Linked DNA regions of Homo sapiens. The protein of the gene in region 4 interacts with the protein of the main gene of each other region in a pairwise test. Each region holds a gene or a part of one and is shown on either strand. Other genes may lie near its edges.

Region 1 (3,500 bases), on a different chromosome or scaffold from region 4:
TTTTGTTCATAGAAGGACCGTGTGAACAGCGAGACGCGGCGTCCCCCAGGAGGTGTGGCTGCTGCATGTGTAACTGACAGTGTGAAGAGCTCCCACAAATCAATGGGAAAAACACCTTGGTAGAAAATGCGCACGGCCTTCGCCGGTGAGGAAACCCAGCGGGCAGCAAACCAGGGCAGCCCACCCCAACAACGCTGGAGGGACAGTGATGGGGAGAAGCGGTTTCAAGAGTCTGTTCCGATCTTCCAGAGCTGACCCTATGCGCACCCTGTGCCCCGGAGGTTCCACTGAGGGTGCACACCCAGAATCGCAGCCCACATCCCCAGACACCCGCACAGGAGTTTCCTAAGGTGGCCCAGGCTGCACAGTGCCCGGCAGTCTGCCAGGGAACAAACGGATTTCAGGGAAGCCACCATGACAACAGCAACTGGTAGCTCCACCTACCACCACAAGGGACCCTCACAAACAGAATAGTTTTGGTGAAAAAAAGCCACCCCCAAAACACAGGCTGAAGGAATCCAGGTATGAGGTCCCAAAGCAGGCAACATACAACCATCTCTGCTGGGGATGCCCTCTCAGGTGGCAGAACCACGAGGACAGCAAGGAACCACTGAGCACAAGGTCGGTGTCCCGGTGACTGCTTGGAGTAGGATGGGGCTGTCTGTGGGGAAGGGTCTCGGGGGATCTTAGGGGCTGGCCGGGAGCAGGATGGGGCTGTCTGTGGGGAAGGGTCTCGGGGGATCTCGGGGGTTGGCCATGTTGAACTCCTTGACACAGGTGGTGGTCGCCAGGTGGTCGTTCTAAACTTAACCACTGAACTGTGCGGATATTTATTAATGTCTCTGCAGGCCTATCACAGTTCACGACTTTGAAAAATTCTATTTTGGGGGGAAAACGTGGACACCAAACAGGAGTAGCTCTGGGCACCCCAGGAGCCATGAGAGGCGACTGACCCACTTCTCTGTTTGACAGAGGAGGGAACCGAAGCTCAAATAGAAAAAGGGGCTGCCCAGCAGCACGCTGCAGGAGGCAGGCAGGAGGGACCCTGTTTGGAGGGAGAGGAGGGGATTAATTTGAGGGATTAGAGGCACAGAGGCTCTGAGCACACGGAGAGCCAGCCGGGACTTGGTAATATCTATAAATATTTGAGAGTCACAAGAATAGTTTTTCCAAGCAGTCGAAGACAAGATAGCTGAGTGTGGCTGAGCAAGGGTCAAAGGACAAGAGCCAAGGTGGCCAGGCCATCAAATGGTGTGGCTGCATATCTACCATGTGGCCCCCCGGCCTGTGGGAGCCCTACTGTGCGCCAGCCTCTGCCAGGCACTGTGGCTGTCAGAACACCAGGGGCCAGACCCCGGCTCTGTTCTCTGGGGTGCCCATCTGGGGCCCTGGGGAAGACAGAAGACACCCCAGATGTCAGTGGGAGCCCCACTGACCTCCACTCCCCACCCCTTACCTGTCTTCCCTAAACACATCTGCTCTGGGCAGCCCCCAGGCCTTTGCACCTCTTGGAGGGTGGCCTGTCTGTCCTTGGAAACTCCTACCCATTCTTCATGCCTTGGCTCAAGTGTCCCTGCTTCCCGGAAGCTCTTCCCAATACCCCAGGCCAGGGTTCACAACCTGGGACCCCAGAGCATTGTGGGCAAACCCCTTCTGTATTCTGTCCGCTGGCCTAGGAGGATCTGTTGTGGGCCTCTGTCCCCGGCACTGGAGGGCCAACCGGGTCTTTTCACAGAGCTGGTACCCAGAGGGGGCTGGAGTCCACTTGGGAGGGAGGGGCAAGAGCGTCATGAAAACCCCAGGGAAAAGGCGACAGGGAAGACACAGAGTTTGTCATGTGGACAAGAAGGCAGGGAAGGGCATTCTCTACAGCAGGGACTGCGTGGGCAAAGGCAGGGGCATGAAGGTGGCAGCTTGTGGGGAACTCGGAAGCAGGGCGACAGCATGGGGGGGCAGCCAGTGGGAGGGACCAGGGAAGAGAGACCCCTCAATGTACACCTGCCCACCAAAGGGAGCCATTGAGGGCCACAGTGCCACCAGGTGACATGGTCCTTTTGCTCTTCAGCAAATATTTACAGGACTGTCCCATAAGTCAGTCCTGGCTCCAGGCCCTGGGGGGTGTGGGAGAGGAGGGGGCCAGGACCAGCACTCTCAGAGCTCAATCCAGACCCACAGACCCAGCCTGTGATGTGCAGACTCCACAGTCCAGGGGCCAGGAGGCAGGACCGACCATAGGGTCATCCCTGTGGACACTTCAGGACCCCTTCACTGTGACCACCGTGTGGTCTGAGGTTCCCCAGAGACCCTCTACCTGGGCCTGCTCTGGGCCAGGTCCCAGGAGAGATGCTTCCACCACAGGGGCTCACGGCACCCAACATCCCTGCAACCTGGTTGTGGTTAGGACACCCACTTTACAGATGAGAAAACTGAGGCCCAACCAGGGCCAGGACTTTGTCAGTGACTGGGTCTGTGGGACCCCAAACCCTGTGCCCTTCTGTGCAGGAAGCCATGCTGACCAACTTCCCTTCCACTCCCCTGGGCTTTTGGTTCTGAATCCCAGGCACCAAATGCAGGACAGAAACCCACTGGGGCAGCCCCGACACTGGCCAGAAGGGAAGATTCTGGAAAAGCCCTTCAGGCAACTCTGAGAACACTAATTGGGTGAGAGGGAGAGGAGGGCAGGACCCCTCCCCAGTTCTAGGAGTCCTTGCCCCACGCCACCCCTGGCAACTCCAGAAAGGCCACATGGCCCGATGCAGCCCAGGAGCCCAGGCCCTGGCCACTGCCTCCAGCCTTTATGGCTTAGCCCAGGGAAGCCTCAGCCCGCCTGGGACAGCAACGCTGACGCCATCAGCAGCTCAGGCAGCAGATCCGCCCACCTGGCACACCTGCCTACCTGTGCACCCAGCCGGGCGGGGTCATGCCTCTGTCCTCAGTGCCTGGCACACAGGAATAGGTGCCGGAGAGCCTTGGCCGGGCACAGGGAAGGAGGGAAAGAGAAAGAGAACCACCGCAGGGAACCCCCAGGCTGGCCTCAGGGCACCCCATGAATGCTAAGTTTTTCCTCAAGTCTCAGCTGAGTTAAGCAGTGTTTCCTCCCCCCCACAGGCGGTACAACCCAGGTGGTGAAATGACAGCCAATGTGGGGCACCAGGGAAGGGCCCTGGCCTGGGCCAGAGCCTGAGTTTGGGCCTGAGGTCATCTGTGTGACCACAGCCAGGGCTGTCGCTCTTTGGGCCTCACCGCCCCCACCTGGACCTTGGCCACGACAAGGTGGGCCTGGCTGATGGGTATCAGGTATTTGGGGTCTGAGATTGAACCACCTCAGAGACTGGACCCCTCCTCCCAGCACAAGACATGTTGGTCCTGTCCCTGTGGGACCCACAGTGGGGGCTGCACATCAGCTCCATGGCCCAGGAGATGGCCCTGCTCTGAGAGTCCACCCTGGGTCTCTGTGTGAGCCCACCTGCCCCCAGGCTCCCACCTGGGTGTTTCCAAGC
Region 2 (3,500 bases), on a different chromosome or scaffold from region 4:
TAGGATTACAGGCCTGTGCTACCACGCCTGGCTAATTTTCATATTTTTAGTAGAAACAAGGTTTCACCACATTGGTCAGGCTGGTCTCAAACTCCTGATCTTAGGTGATCCACCCGCCTAGGCCTCCCAAAGTGCTAGGATTACAGGCATGAGCCACCGCACCCGTCCTAGAGCTAGTAAGTTTTAGGGCAATTTTTTCTGCAGCAACAGATAATACAGAATCTTTATAAACTCTTTGTTGAAATTAATTCCCTTCTTCCTAAACAGTAGCTTCTAGTTTCAACAAAATAAACCCCTCTGAATTCCCAAAATTGCCAGGGGGAGCAGGGGGTGGGAAAAAAGCACAGCACACCCTCTGATCTGAGAGCTTGCTAATTCTTTCATACTCCTAACCACAGAAGACTGTAAAGTGAGAACTGAAAGAGTAACTTATACCTGTTCCAATTATAATAAGGAGGTACAGAATTACTTTATCACCTACAATCAAAAGTTGGTATTAATAAATTACCATCTGGGTTTGTTTCTCCCCATTTAAGAGCTTATTAACCAAGTAGCTTAATAAGAGGTGTTTTTTGCATCTAATTAATAGATATCTTAAAGTTTATGGCTTACATCGTCATTCTAAAAAACTTTTCTTAGTAAATAATAATGCACTTAACAAAAATAAAAGTTGTTTCAGAATTTAGAAAAACGTGGAAAAAAGTCACTCTTAGATCTACTGCCCAAAGGTATTTTTGTTCTATCGTTTTCCAGTTTTTTTCCAGGGTAGAGGTGGCACACTGGTAACCCTTTGTAATCAGACTTCTGAATCTAGTAGTAAACAAGACTGAGGGAGAGGTTATTCAGAGAAATATCTCACATCAGTTCTGAAATTATTCCTATAAGTAATGAGAATATATAATAAAAGAATTTCTTTTTCAGTTTCATTCAGACAGTGCCATGAAAGGCAGCAACCTCCGCAGGTTGACAGGTTCGATACTGTGACTAGTACAATCAGGTATACTTTGCAGAGACAGAATTTTCCTCAGGACTCTGCTATTGAGCTGGGGGCTGTGCCTCAGAGAAGTCCACCCATCCTTTCAAGACTTCCCTTTTCTTAGAGCTAACAGTGATTCATCTTCAGGTAGATGGAACGTCTTCTCACAGTAAATTTTTAAAGAACATGGATTCTGGGGCCTGCATATCTAAGAATGTCTGAGCCACTGCACCCAGTCTTCAACCCCTTTTAAGATTTTTCTTTCCTTAGTCTTGAGCATATGTGAAAAAAAGAAAAACTAAAATAAAATATTTTTTTAAAATCTCCGTCTCAGTAGAAGTCTCTTCTCATTAATTTTCGCTTTTAATCTTAAGACTTAATTTTTCAACTCAAGAACACTTTTTTCTCTTCAGTTGTATCTTCTTCTCCAGCACTTTGGTTTCTTCCCTGGGAATATTTACATACTCACAGACTTGGTCTCTTTGTTTAGAGCTACTAAGTTTTAGGGCGATTTTTTTCTGTAGCAATAGAGAATACAGATGGCCTATTGCCAAGATTTCCTCAAACTACAAGGCTGATAGAACCACACTTGACAATGAAATGGAGGCCCACGTTAGAAGTGCTGAGCCTGCCCTGAAGGTAGATAGCAAGCCCCTGCATCCTTTCTCTACAGTCACCTTGCAGTTCAGAAATGCAAGGCCAGTTTCAGTCAGAAAATCAGGCAGCTACAGGTTGAGGCAGGGTGTGGTTCTATCCTTCTCTTCCCATTGAGCATCATTCAGTTTCTTTTTTCTTTTTTTTTGAGACAGAGTCTCGCTCTGTCGCCCAGGCTCGAGTGCACTCAAGTGCAGTGGTGTGATCTCGGCTCACTGCAAGCTCCGCCTCCCGGGTTCACACCATTCTCCCGCCTCAGCCTCCTGAGTAGCTGGGACTACAGGCGTCCACCACCACGCCAAGGCTAATTTTTTTGTATTTTTAGTAGAGTCGGGGTTTCACCATGTTAGCCAGGATGGTCTCGATCTCCTAACCTTGTGATCCACCTGCCTCGGCCTCCCAAAGTGCCGGGATTACAGGCGTGAGCCACCACGCCCGGCCTGAGTATCTTTCAGTTTCTATTTGGTGGCTCTAACTCCCAGAATACACTTGGATAGGGAAGCTTAGTGTTTTCTGTGTGTATTTGTGTTTGAGGGTAGGAAGCAGTTATAGGGTATTGAGTCCTAGAAAGTATAGTCTTCAAGAACAAAGATTCCAGTTGACATGGGCAGAGAAGTGCATTCTGGAGACAGTACATTCTGGAGACTGCAGTGTTTTCTACACCTTCATTTACGGCACACTCCTGGAATGGGGTCAGAATCAAGCAGTGAGGGTTAGATGATCCTATCTCAGTCCAGCATAGCTGTATGAGATAAAAGCCTCCCAGTAGCACTGGGAGCACTGGGCTAGGGGCTCTGCATATTCTCTTGGCCAGCTGTAGATCTGAGAATGGCAGTTACCTATGTCCACGGGAGTAGAGAAGGGGACCAAGGGTAATCTATGCACCCTTGCTGGCAAATACCAAGAGGCCTTTGAACAAATTCTGCGAAATAAGAGAAAAGGGAATATCATTCTAAAAGTTGAGAGAAAGAATGAATCTTTGAAGATGACTGCCAGTGGGAACCACAAGAATTCAAGTGGGCAGTTGAGGCTACTTACCAGTTAAGACATTACAATGGTGGGAAGTAGACTGTGACTGAAAAGAATCGCAGCATCTCAGTGTTACAAGGGATCTCAGAAGCCTTCAGTTCAACCTTCTCAACTCCACAGCAACTAAGTAAGCGGTCATCAAGCCCATGTTTGAATCCCCCCACCTGATCTAGAAGTTATTACGCATTACATGGTGAAACAATTCACTTCATTTTTACAGAGTCCTAATTTTTAGAATCTTATTTTTTAACCGCAGCAACATTTAACACTCTGTACTCTCTATCCCTGAGTTCTGTCCTGTGGAGCCACACAGAACAATCCCAATATTTCTTTTAAGAGGTAGACTCTTTTACGAGATGGATGTTTCTTTCAAGAGATAGACCTTCAAGTACAATAGTATCATATCGACCTCCCAAGCTGTGTGTTTTAGTTGTCCCTAAGGATACTAGCAGAACTGTGAATATACCCACATAAGCACACTATGCTAGCTATTCGAGAATCTCACATGCAATACTACCAACTGCAACAATGGTAAATATATTCTTGGTCAGCATCCCTACTTACAGAATAGAAAACAGAACACCCCCACCTACCATACATATTCTTTTACACAGCTCCAGGAAACCCTGATTAATGACCTCCACTTGCAAAGGAGGCTACTTACCTTAACCATGAAATAATGAATGCTATTGATCCAACAAGCTACTGCTATAGAGTGTTATTGATCACCCAATCTTTGGTTAAAATGGTCCTCATTTAGCAATTTCACTGTCACAAACACCTGGAGCAAAGCACACTCATAATTAAAGAGTTTGGGGGAGTTAAAGTGAGAGGTGATGGA
Region 3 (3,500 bases), on a different chromosome or scaffold from region 4:
TGGAATTACAGGTGTATGCTACCAGACCCGGCTCATTTTTGTATTTTTAGTAGAGACGGGGTTTCAGCATGTTGGCCAGGGTGGTCTTGAACTCCTGACCTCAAGTGATCCACCCGCCTCAGCCTCCCAAAGTGCTGGGATTAAAGGTGTGAGCCACGGCACCTGGCCTCAATCATTTTTATAATTCTTTTTTACATTCTAGCCAATGTGGAAACCCCTCCAGGCACAAAGCAGGAGACACCCCTCACTACTGAGGAAGGCCCTGCTGGCCCTGACTATGGTGGAAACGTGACTTCACCCCTCCTTCTGGCATACTTGTTAGGATCTCCTGGCATCAAGCGGCACCCTAATAATACCTTTCCCACGATTTCTACATAGGTCCTCTAAAAAACAGTAATTCACCTTTAAACCACCTGGCCACATGAGAATGTGATTAACAATTATTCCTAAACATTGTGGACAGGTAACCAGAGTTGGAAAAGGGTCTGTGTGGGCTGCCCCTCTCCACTGCACGCAGGAAGCTGAAAAAGCTGCACTGATGGAGGCTAGGAGTCCCCAAAAGGCATTGGAGATGGAATAAAAGTAGGAGCCATCAACAGCACTCCAGGTGAGATCCCTGGGGTCAAGAGAACGGCAGAAAGACAGGTCCCATCCTCCTTACCCAAAGACAGGAGGTCAAAGCACCTCTTTTCCCCAAACCCACTGGAAAAGGAACACATGCAAGAAAAAATATTGAGACCCAAGTTCCTGCCTGACATTGGTAACAAGACTAAGAAATCACCTGTTTTTTTTCATTCAGCTAACTTGGTCATAGTGCTTAGAAATAAGTTCCCAATTCAAATCAGCGAGGCTGAGAGACAAACCCCTTTTTTTCTCCTGGTGGATTGGGCCTGCAGAGGATCTTAAAAGACAATGTTATTTTTTTGTGTTGGGGGGACACTGAGTCAAGTGAATAACCATCCTTGCAGGTGTTTCCCACTGGGAAAAATGAAATCTGATGACCCCACTCCCACCCACAGGGACACAACACAAAGTCCTGGATGTGACTGTACTCCAGGGCCTGCTTACCAAGTCACCTGGGGCAGGACACCAACACCCCTGTTGGAACCCCAGGGCTGGGCCGGTGTTCAGTGAGGGTGCTTGTCAGGCCGTCTGGCCCTGAGCAGACCACGTGCAGCCTCACTGCTGCTGGTGCTCTTTCTCCTCCTCCTTTTTAGCCATTTTACTGATCATTAGTGGCAGTACCAGGAGGTGGGCAGGGGAACATAAAGGAGCTGAAATTCAAACCAGCCCATTTTACACCACTTAGGTGCCTCCCATAAAACCGGGCAAGATTTCATCATCCAAGAACTCCCTGTCCTCTGTCCTGTGGAGGTCTAAGCAGCCTGAGGGGTCAGGAGCTACACCATCTCCAGACCCCAGGATCAGGAGCCTCTATCTCTAATTATCATGAGCTCTTGACTGCGCATGGTATTTTCTGTCACTTCAGGGTTAACAGGCATTTCCAGCCATGAGCTGGCCCATCAAGTCAACGCCAGGAAACCTGCAGAGTGGGAGTGCTGGGGCTGCCCTCAGAACCGAAGCACACTCTCCTTGTCCCTCCAAAGTCCCCAGCACAATGGCAAGTTCACAAAGGAAGTGAGCCTTGCCAGACTGTGCTAGCAAATTCCCATAAATACTTGGGTCGGGGTAGTACTGCTTATGTAAAATGCTTCCCCATTGAGAGATGCTGCTTTATTTACATTCTTCACAACCCATTCATAAAAAGGAGGCCCTTTAATGTCGGGGCTGTTCGTATAATGCTCCATAAACTCGGCAGCTTCGCCTGGCAGCCTTAGTTCAACACAGGCTACTTCTCAACTCCAGAGACTTTTTTTCCTTAAGGTTTTTATTCTCCTTAATGACTCACCTTGCGACAGGGTGCTGAGGCCAGATGTTGCCGGAGCAAGGCCAAGAGGAATAAGAACAGATAAAATGAAAACACACAAGTCCTCCTGGATGCTGGAACAGAGAGGTGAGGAGGAATGAAAATAATTTTGAGAATTCCCCATAGAACTCCAATTTGAAGTATGTATGCTAGGAGGCTGAATTCCTTCCAGGTTTACTAAAACTTCCTTTCTGGATGTCAAATGTGCCCCAACTTATACCTCTAACCAGAGAAGGTGTGAAAGGGTTGTTTTTTTTTTTTTTTTTTTTACCCAAAAGGAGCTCTCTCTAGTTTTTAATTTGCACCGGGGATGAATAAATAAACAGAAATTTTCTCTGTTTCTTGATATAAGTGTTCCAGGGGCTGCTGGCTCCAGAAGGGGCACAATTTGCTCAGAGTGAAGAAACTCAGGCAATCCCCAGAAAGAGAGGAAGGACTGTGTTCTAGGACACACAGCAAACACAGCTAAAGGAGCTGAGAAGAGAGCCCAGGAGATGCATTCTGAGGTAGCTTTTCTCCTGCTACAGTAGAAGGAGGAGAGAAGTAGTAGGGATTTTTTTTTTAATTGACGGGGGAGCGGTCTGCATTGCCATGGCAACTGTGAGGGGTGGCCTTCCCGCGTAGAAGGGAAATGCTGGTCCATTAATCATCAAACTGGGGCACAAAAGGGAGGTTTGGGGGAAAGGGGATGGATGCAGAATATATTTTTTCACTATCTGGCCTCTAACCAGTCACCAGTCCTCTTTCCCGTTTCCCCCATGGTCCAGGGTTGATGGTGAACCAAAACAGAAGCCTGAGAGAGCAGGGATTGTAGCTTTCCTTTATGAGGGGTCCAATGTGGGGCTGATTGTGCCTCTTATGTTGGTGATGCCCCCATAAACACCTCTTCCAAACCAGCCCCAAAAGTCCCATCTATGGGCCAGACCCAGGAGTATTTTTCTTTTCTGTGCTCAGAATTGTGTTTTCTCCCTCATTTGCACCCGGTTTGAGAAGAGATAAAACATGGATTCATTTAGCATGAACAACAAGGAAAACTGCATAAGAGCAGCAAAGCTGGGTAGAAAGAATGGTGGTCCGGTGAGGTAGGAGGAAAACAGGATTACAGCCCTTTTCCAATGTCTATATGGTATCACATAAGCAATCCATAGGACTCTTCACCAGCAGAAATATTAGAAACAGCAGTTAAATTTCCCATTTACAGCACCCCAAACATGCCCTATCCATATGCCTTTGACAGAAAGGGCTGGAAATCTCCAAGGACTCCAATATGAGCATTTCTGGAGAAGCTGAAAGGAAGGTCTCCCCCTTGTTCCTGCCTAACTCAGCAACCAACCACATTTATTCACTCAACAAAAATGATGTGCACAGCACTGTACAAGAAATACCAGAATATTCACACACACACACACACACACAGAGGTTTAACACTCATATTGTTCCTGTCCTTAAGAAATTTCCAACCTACAAAACCACTCAAGAGGATACCACGTTAGAAAATCCAGAGTCATGAGCTCAGGCGGGGATGACTATGTTGGCCTGGAGTGGTCTGAGCAACAACCAGACTAAGGACAAG
Region 4 (3,908 bases):
ATAAAGGCGACCCCGCTCGTCAGTCAGACCAGGGCAAGCTTGCCAGGGCTTCACACTTCACCAAAGGGAACCCTTTCTGCCGCGACTACCGAGCTGCCAGGGCCGGGACAGGCAGAAGCCTGCCCCGAGGTCTCACCTCTGGAGGGTTACGAGCTGTGCCAGGCCGGCTACGGTAGAGGGTGTGCAAATACCCCGCGGTCCCAAGGCTCCTGAAGCTGCCTAAGGGATATGAGAGACCCTAGGTTCGAATCCTGCCTCCATCGTCTTATGTTCGTGCCTCAGGAGAGTCACTTTGCCCCGTTTCCTCGCATACCAGAGAGCCCAGTAACACGCTCCGCGGCTCTGCGGAGAAAAAGACCCTAGAGATCGTGGACACAGCGTCTGGGCCGTATCAGCGCCCACTCGAGATTATTACTGCTTATGCCTGCAACCGGATGCTGTGCGCCCGGTTAGAAAAGGTCAAATAAAACTCGAGTTAGGGGAAGCCTGTGGACGCCATGTGTACAAAGTGAAGTTTAATCAAAGTTACAAACGTTGGTGGGTTTTCCGGGACAAAGGCCCCTCCTCGACGCAGGGTTCGCTTGGGCGACGCGTCGACTCTCGGCTCCCTGCAGTCAAGGCGCGGCGCGGCCCCCGTGCCGCTTCCGGTGCTCGTTGAGGTTGGAGCGTTGGCTGAAGGCGCGGCCGCAATCTCCGCACGCGTAGGGCCGCTCGCCCGTGTGCGTGCGCAGGTGGCGCACCAGGCTGCAGTTGCGCACGAAGGCCTTGCCGCAGTCGCGGCAGATGTAGGGCTTCTCGCCCGAGTGCAGGCGCTCGTGCTGGCGCAGCTCGGAGCAGCCGCGGAAGGTCTTTCCGCACTCGGAGCAGCCATAGGGCCGCTCGCCGGTGTGCGCGCGCTGGTGTTGCACCAGGCCCGAGCGGCCCTTGAAGGCCTTTTCGCACAGTGGGCACGCGTAGGGCTTGGCGCTGCTGTGAGTGCGCTGGTGCCGGCTCAGGTTCGAGCGCTGGTTGAAGGCCTTGCCGCACTCGGGGCACGCGTAGGGCTTCTCGCCGGTGTGCACGCGCCGGTGCTCCACGAGGTGCGAGAACAGCCCGAAGGCCTTGGCGCAGTCGGCGCACTCGTACGGCTTCTCCCCGGCTCCCGACCCCCGTCGGGGACTCCGCTCGCTGTAGTCCCCGCAGGGCGGGCACCCCAGCCGGAAGGCGCGCCGCGCCAGGACGGGGCCACGCCGGTGGCGCTCGGCCGAGTGCGTCTTCTGGTGGCGGTACAGGCCGGAGCAGCGCACGAAGGCCTTGCCGCACTCGGCGCACTCGTAGGGCCGCTCGCCCGTGTGGATGCGCTGGTGCTGCAGCAGGCTGGAGGTGCGCGTGAAGGCCTTGCCGCACTCGTCGCAAGCGTACAGTCGCTGGGCCGGGGGGTCGGGGACAATAGGGCGAGGTCGCGAGGTTTGGCCGCACTCAGGACACACTGGGGGACTCTTGCCCGCCTGCTGCTGCTGGTTGGGGCGGAAGCGCTTCCCGCACCGGGCACACGGACGGGGCTCCTCCGTCGCCTGCAGCCTCTCCTGGGGGATCCGCAGGGCCCTCCACGCAAAGGCCTCGCCGCACGCGCAAGCCCGGGGCTGCTCCACCAAGGGGTTCCTCCCGCGGGAGGTCGGCTTTGGGGTCCTCGGGCAGGTCGGAGCGCCAGTCCCTGGTTGGCACGGCCAACAGTCCGTGTGGACCTCACACAGTTGAGTCCGGGGGTGGTTCTGGATCCGCTCCGGACAGGGGTCACACACGGGTGGCGTCTCCCCAGCGGGCGCCCCGCGATGCCACGCCAGGCAGGAGTTCCTGCTGCAGTCCCCGCCACGCGCTGGGCTCCTACAGGGGCCCTCCCGGGCTTGCAGCCCCTCGGGGATAACCAGCTCAGGGTTCTGAGAAGAGGTGGGGCCGCACGGCTCCCGCACGAGGGGTCTGGTCCCGGCGCTGTGCCGGGTCCCCGGGCCGGGGCTCACCCCGAGGCTGCAGCCCCGGGAGCCCCCGCCTGGGGGAGTCGTCCTACCGCCCGCCGCTCCACGCAGGTCCCCCTTTTGAGTGGGGCGGCTCCCAGCTCGGTCCTCTTCGAGGGGCCTCGGCTCCTCGGGCCTCTTCTCCCGGGCCCCGGAGGCACCCTGGGCATCGGCCTTGGGGAGTCCTCCCTGCCCAGCCTTCTGGGCTGGAGCCTCCATCCTGGGGCGCAGAGTTCTGGTTGTAGGATCTGGAAGAGCAGAGAAGAAATGGAGGTTGGCGGTTCCCAGGAGGAGAGAAGTGGAGAACTGGGCCAACGAGCGACCACCCCACAGCTGGCACCTACTGGGCGGCCCCCAGCTCTCTGCAGATGCGAAAGGGTAAATGGAGTGACATAGGCAGCCCGTCCTGCCCCTCTTCAAATTGTCACCACCCAGACCCCAGAGAACAGCTTCCCAGGCTCTGCCTGCCCGCCATCACCGTTCCTCCCCAACACTAGCTCCTAAAACACTGTGCCCCTGGCTAAGGCCCTCCCTGGTCCCCCTTCCCCAAGCAACAGGGACTCCCCCGTTGCTCAGCTGCCAGCTCCCCAAAATCTCACTTACTCCTGCCCTCCGTTTCTCAGTGGCAAGCCGACACTCCGGGTCCTCCTGGCTCCATTCACTGCCATTGTCCATGTCTTCTGAGAGGTGTGAGGTGAGACTCACCTGACAGCTGAGAGCCTGGCCGGGAGATCCACGCTGCAGAGGCCAATGCTGGACTTCCCCTCCCCTCTTCAACCAGGTAACGGTGGTGCTCTCAAGGCTGGCAGCCTCATCTACAAAATGGGTATGATAACGGTAAGTATAACCAGCTGAGTAGGGAGACAGGCAGCCCAGATCATTCAAGCAAGTGTGAACATTAGCAACGCCTGGCGCCTGCTATTACTATTTTAAAATTACACTGTGGCTGTATTAGTTATCTATTGTTAAAGCTGCTTTAACAAACTGCCACCCCATAGTGGCTTGAGACAGTGCAAACTTGTTATCTCAGAGTTCTGGAGGTCGTAAGTCCTAAGTGAAGGTTTCAGTAGTGTGGGTTCCTTCCAGAAGCTCTTGGGGAGGACGTTTGCTGACCATTTCCAGCTTCTAGGTGCCACCTACTTTTCTTTCTTCCATCTTCAAGCCAGCAGTAAGACATGTTCATCTCTCTCTTTCTGGGTTTGTTGTCAAATCTCCTTATACTCCTTATAGGATTCTGACCCTTCTGCCTCTTGTGATCACACTAGGCCAACCACACATAATCCAGGAATCTCCCCATCTCAAGATCCAAAACTTCATCACACTCAGTTCTTTTGCCTTGTGAAGTAACATAGTCAGAGGTTCTAGGAAACAGGACGTGCAGATCTTTCAGGGGGCCATTATTCTGCTTACAACAGTGGACTTTGCTGAGATACACACACGTGCATATATAAATATTCATCTCCTAAGCAAGCAATTGAATAGCAAGTGAAAACAAAGGACGGCCGGGCACGGTAGCTCACGCCTGTAATCCCAGCACTTTGGGAGGCCGAGGCAGATGGATCACCTGAGGTCAGGAGTTTGAGACCAGCCTGACCAACATAGAGAAACCCCGTCTCTACTAAAAATACAAAATTAGCCAGGCATGGTGGTGCGTGCCTGTAATCCCAGCTACTCAGGAGGCTAAAGCAAGAGAATCACTTGAACCCGGGAGATGGAGGTTGCAGTTAGCCGAGATCGCACCATTGCACTCCAGCCTGGGCAACAAAAGTGAAACTCTTTCAAAAAAAGAAAAGGAAAAAAAGAAAAGAGAGAGAGAGGGAGGGAGGGGTGAAGGCCGGGGGGGGGGAGCCGGGCGCGGTGGCTCACGCCTGTAATCCCAGCACTTTGGGAGGCCTAGGTGGGCAGATCACGAGGTCA

The links.
Region 1: the proteins of ZNF837 (region 4) and BEGAIN interact in binary tests that used the Homo sapiens proteins (3 or more experiments, as listed by UniProt).
Region 2: the proteins of ZNF837 (region 4) and GPATCH2L interact in binary tests that used the Homo sapiens proteins (3 or more experiments, as listed by UniProt).
Region 3: the proteins of ZNF837 (region 4) and BAHD1 interact in binary tests that used the Homo sapiens proteins (3 or more experiments, as listed by UniProt).

What each region holds. Positions count from the first base shown.
Region 1 is NC_000014.9:100,563,418-100,566,917, forward strand, and holds part of BEGAIN (brain-enriched guanylate kinase-associated protein), read right to left. Parts: intron 1-3,500. UniProt on the Homo sapiens protein: May sustain the structure of the postsynaptic density (PSD).
Region 2 is NC_000014.9:76,158,422-76,161,921, reverse strand, and holds part of GPATCH2L (G patch domain-containing protein 2-like), read right to left. Parts: intron 1-3,500.
Region 3 is NC_000015.10:40,443,953-40,447,452, reverse strand, and holds part of BAHD1 (bromo adjacent homology domain-containing 1 protein), read right to left. Parts: exon of another isoform or gene 2,052-3,500; coding exon of another isoform or gene 1,910-2,051; intron 1-1,909.
Region 4 is NC_000019.10:58,367,123-58,371,030, forward strand, and holds the end of ZNF837 (zinc finger protein 837), read right to left. Parts: intron 2,807-3,908; 5' UTR 2,697-2,806; exon of another isoform or gene 2,595-2,696; intron 2,240-2,594; 5' UTR 2,211-2,239; coding exon 615-2,210; 3' UTR 501-614; downstream 1-500. UniProt on the Homo sapiens protein: May be involved in transcriptional regulation.